Linked DNA regions of Homo sapiens: region 2 is linked to region 1. Evidence: fine-mapped expression QTL. Tissue or cell type: sun-exposed skin. Region 1 holds a variant in brackets; the other region holds the start of a gene. All regions are shown on one strand. Distances are between the middles of the regions. Region 1 overlaps EPHA8 (EPH receptor A8). Region 2 holds the start of EPHA8 (EPH receptor A8).

The links. PIP is the estimated chance that this variant, and not a neighbour inherited with it, causes the effect. A credible set is the group of variants that fine-mapping cannot tell apart.
Region 2: EPHA8 starts here. The variant in region 1 is the best candidate, but not a certain one, in a credible set for the expression of EPHA8 in sun-exposed skin (GTEx, PIP 0.83).

Annotation. Positions count from the first base shown.
Region 1 is chr1:22,586,425-22,588,924 of GRCh38, reverse strand. EPHA8 (EPH receptor A8) reads right to left here. Exons shown (of 17, transcript NM_020526.5): 4 at 2,290-2,445; 5 at 1-54. Among named protein-coding and RNA genes, the nearest start is that of EPHA8, 24 kb to the right of the region's middle. The variant C/T (reference allele first, on the strand shown) is at 1,435.
Region 2 is chr1:22,562,283-22,564,782 of GRCh38, reverse strand. It overlaps EPHA8 (EPH receptor A8), which reads right to left and starts at 1,294. Exons shown (of 17, transcript NM_020526.5): 1 at 1,054-1,294. The coding sequence starts at 1,147. RefSeq lists an enhancer at 256-756.

The DNA of each region.
Region 1 (2,500 bases):
TCACTGATGTCCCATTCACACTGGAGATCAGGTTCACTGGTGCCGAGGGTGGCCCTGAGGGCAGAGGATGACAGATGGGGCAGTGGTTATTTATTTGGGCTGTCCTGTCTTCCTATCATCAGACCTGGGGCTCCCCAAGGGAAGGGCTCCCCATCATATTTAGGGCTCCTTAAGGATAAGGTCCACATCTACTCCATCCTCTGTAGCCTCCCCAAGGGCAGAGTTTGTGTCTCTGCCATCAGACCGGGACCACAATGTCAGAGTCTGGGCACAGAACCCTGGGACCCCATCCCCCCCACCCATCAGGACCACCATGATCCAAGGGTCTGGACATCCCACTGCTCACCCAGAGTGGGAGAGAGACCGCACAGTCCCGGGGGTGCCCACAGCAGCCACCCTGTGTGTAAGTGACCCAGGTATTTGCAGCCACATCTATTCCTTGACCCTTCTGTGCCGGATCCGATACAAAATGCCACTGAGCACGCACTGTGGAATTAAGTGGAGGCCCCCAGAAGCCCACCGTGTATCCCCATGGCTGTGTGCACCAAGCAGCCGCTCCCCAACCCCGGGCATGGGAGCCTCTGTCTGGGCAGCACAAAGACTTTGGAGAGAGAGGGGTGACCCCTTGGTTGAGGAGACCAGGACGTGGGGCTGGGGGTCTGAGGGGCTGGGGTGGGGGTTTGAGCCAAGAGGGCATGGGGGTCTGTGGGGACCCCTGGCCTCAGAATTCCAGTTCTCAGAATTCCAGGCAGAGAATCTTAAATCTTCAGAAAATAGAATTGTAAGATCTTGGAATCAGAATCTTACAATTTGAAGAGAAGAGAATTTTTAACATCGGAAGGGTATAGAATACTAAAAGCTCAGCCTTTACGATCTTAAGCTTTCCAGAACCTAAAGGCACTGAACTGTGGGTTTGGAAAGAAACCAGAGTCCAGCCAGCTTCACGCAAGTGTCCATGACCTGGGGCCAGACTCGACTTGCCTGAGGTGCCCACGCTGTCACCTGGCCACCTTTTCTGCCCCAACAGGTCCCACATGTGGAAAATGCACAGATCTGGGCAGGGCAGTGGAGGGAGGGTGGGTGTGTGTGTCTGTGTGTATGTGCACAAGCATGTGGGCATGAATGCACCTGGGCCCTCGCCTGCCATGTGCAGGGAGGCTGGGGCTGGGTGGTGATGGATGTATGGGAGCGGGAGATGGGGGCTGATGCTTGGGCAGATTCAGAGCAAAATCAGAACAGTCTGAAGTGCCTCTTGCCCTACCACAAGAGCCCAGGGTTGGCAACTGGGCTGGGCTGAGCAGGCTGTGGTCCCTCCCCAGGCCTGGAATGGGAGTATGAGTGGCCCGTTAGGACACATGAGAGGAGAGAATCCAGGCGCTGCATCAGCAGAAGGTAGGACAGTCACGCAGCCCTGCAGGCATGGGTGCAGAATCC[C/T]CCCATACCTTCAGGTCCACAGGGCACGTGCACATGCAGCCACACCCTCTCCAGGCACATGCACCCTTGCAGGGCCAGGTGTGCACACGCACACACACACGTGCTGAGCTCACAAGACACCCTCATTCAAGCTTTACAAGGACTTCTGAGTCCCCTTCAGGTACCCAGATGTACACACACACACACCTCCTCCTAAGAATCCTTAATATATGTGACGAATCCTTTATATATGTGAGCTCAACTACACGTCACACATTTACATGCAGGCATCCAAACACGATACAGGCGTCGTCTGTAAGAGCAGCTGCTCACACAGACACACGCTAACACACAATCACTGCAGGGCCCCAGGGCATACACAGAATCAGATATTCGAACTCCATGGGTACACACACATATGCACACACACCATACACATGTAAGGCAGCTCTCAGCATTCAGCAGTTCCAACAAGTTCATCAAAGATGATGGTGATGGAAGGGTTGCTGCCCTAACCCTCACCCTCTCCGCACAGGCGAGCACCCTGGCTTGCCCACCTGGCCCCCAGGACATCGGCATCGCTGCTAGATCAGAAGATGACAAAAACTGCCCGATGTGGGGAAAGAAGTGAGGCCAGCTCCATTCTGCCCTCCAGTGTAGGTGACACAGGACAGAGGCTGGGAGCCCAGAGAGGTCTAGGCCACCGTGGAGGGATCAGAGTCACCCCCCCCACCTCAGACTGGCCTCTGGCTCAAGAGAGCCACCCGCCCCTGCCCCACCAGCAGAGAACTGGCTCTCTGAGGCCTGGAGGACCAAACACAGGGGCCCGGCCCAGTCTTGGGCTCAAGGGTACTGGCATCTCGGAGTGGTACTCACGGGTGCAGGCTGAGGACGGCGGGTCCAGGGCTGCACGGTAGTAGCTGAGGTCACAGTGGCAGGCTTGGGCGGCTGGAGCTGCGGAGTGGCTGTGGGGAGGGCAGCGGGCACACAGCTGGTCCCCAGGGGCTGACTTGTAGAAGCCCAGCTCACAGGCTGTGGAGGAGAAGGCGGCTGCACATGAGCCAGCAGGGCCACCCTGGCTGGCCTT
Region 2 (2,500 bases), 24 kb after region 1:
CCTTGGGGCAGAGCTGTGGGAACAGAGGAGGGTCAGGGCAGGGGTTGGGGTGTGGGGAGTGGGACCCAGGGAAACCTCCTGAGCTGGATGGAGCTGGGGTCTCCAGGGAGCTAACGGGTGTGTGGGTGGCAGGCTTAGGTGCTCCCTCTCAGCTCTTCTTGTGCCCCCACCACCAGAAGTCATTTCCCAGACCTTTTTGGTCCCAACGACTCAGTGCACCTCCCCACCCCAATCCTTCCTCCCACACAGGGCCCCAGAGTGACCCTGCCATCCCAGCCTTCTCTGACAAGACTTTGCTCTCCGGGGCCTGCCTGCCTCAATCTCTCTGTGGCCTCCCCATCCCCCAGCCCTCTCCTCCCCAAGCCGCTCCCGCTGCCCACGAAGCTGCCTCTCCTCCAGCTGGAACTCCCCTGCCCTCCCTTCTTCTCCCCAGCCCGTCGCCAGACTGTGGCCCTCGGGCCCTGACCCCTCTCCCAGACTCTCATTCCGCACCCCTCCTTCCTGCCTCCCCTCAAAGCCAGTCCTGCTCTCCGGGGTCCCGTTTCTCAGCGCCTGGCTCCTATCTCTCAATGCTGTCCCCACCCCCTTTGCCTTCTGCCCTCTGAACCTCCTCCCCCATTCTCCTGTCCCTCCAACCCCAGTGCCTACCCCCCTGTCCTCTGTCCCCAACCCTGTTCCTTGCCCTACCTCACTGTACCCTCTCCTCCTTACCTCTTCTCTTGTCTTCTGTCCAGTCCTGTCCCCTTGTCCCCGGCGTCCGACCCTCAGTATTCTGTCCCCAGCTGCACATCCCTCAGTCCTGTCTCCTGTCCTTTCCCACTGTCCCCCAGTCCCCGGTACCTGTCCGTCTTCCTCAAGCTCGCGGGTTCCCATCTCCACCGCTCTGTCCCTTAATCCCGGGTCTCTTCCGCGGTGCCACCCCGCCCCCCGGGCCGAGGGATCCCGGCCGCCTTGGAGCTCAGGGTCCATGCAAAGGAAGTTGAGCCGCAGGCAGCGCGCGCCGCGCCCCGCGCCCCTCGGCCGCCCCTGCCCCGCCCCGCCGCCGCCGCTCACCTTCGCCGCGCGCCGCGGACACGCAGGTGGCCGCCGCCGCCGCGGCCGTGACGACCCAGAGCGCAGGGGGCAGGCGGCCCCGGGCGGGGGCCATGGCCGGGCCGGGCCGGGCGGGCGGGGGCGCCACGCACCCTCGGGCTTGGCCGCTGCGGCCCGCGCGTCGGGAGGGAGCGCGCTCCCTCGCTCTCCGCACACCCGGCCGGGCGCACACCCCGGCGCACACGCGGCTCCCAGCGCACACGCGGGCACCCGCGCCCGCCGCCGCCGCCGCCGCCCCGGGCGGGGGCCGGCCCGTCACGGCGCCGAGCCAATCAGCACCGAGGCGGGGGGGTGGGGGACACGGAGCCCGCACCGCGGCCACCCGGCCCGCGGCCACCGCCGCCGCACGTGCGCACGCCCACACTCCCCCGGCGGGCACCTTCGGGGGCGCGCCCCGCGCTGCGCACTTGGACTCAGGGCTCAGGGCCCCAGTGCGCGAAGCCACCATCGGGACGTCCCGGCGACACCAGGACCAGACCCACCCAGGGATTCCCTCTGTGGACACACGCGCGGGCCGCACATCCACCGCATGCTCGCTCCTGCCCGCATGACCCCAACACCGAGTGCTTCGCGTGGTGACACACTCCGATGGATACACACTAGTTCATGGGCAGAGGCTCAGAGATGGGCTCAGCGGCAAACTCAGAGGCACTTTTAGGTGAAAAACCAAAAAAACACCAAAACCAAAACTCTCTCCCTTTCCCCACCCCAACAACTTGGCATTTAGGGACCACGGGATTTTAAGGAGGCCTTAGATTGCAGTGGTCAGGAGGGCAGGCTCAGGGACCAGGAAGACAAGTGTCCTGCTGTGTGGCCTTAGGCAAGTTTCTTAAGCTCTCTGAGTCTAAAACTTCATGTCTGTAAAACAAGAATACCAGTATCGATATCCTAGGGTGGCGTGAAAGGGCCCAGGTGGAACTCCTGGCAGACGGCCGGGCACACAGCCAGGTGGCCGGTCATGGGAGCTGTTATCCAGTGAGGGGGACTATCATTCCCTGCTTTTCCCTCCCCTGACCTTCCCTGTCTCCAGTTCCATCCCCCAGGACTAGGGGTCTCATCCAGGGATGGCTTTGGGCTGTGAGGGGAGGACAGGGATATAGGGCTGCATCCTGGGGCCTGCTCTGCCACCCTCAAGTCCCTCACACACCTGGTGGGCCAAGCAGTCCGAGAAGCAGGCAAGAGACCTGCAGCCTCCTGAGAGGGTGGATGCCCACGGGAGCAAGTGCCTGATTGCTTCCCACTGCCGCCTGGCACAGACCATCGTCCAGTCCCCTCTTCCTTCGTTCCCAGCTCTCATGGTCACTGGGGGGTGAGGAGAATTGGAGCCATGGCTGGAAGTTACATAGGATGAGAAAGGCCATTTGGGGAACATGTGCCCTGAGTCAGACCCTGCTCTAGGGGCTTTATA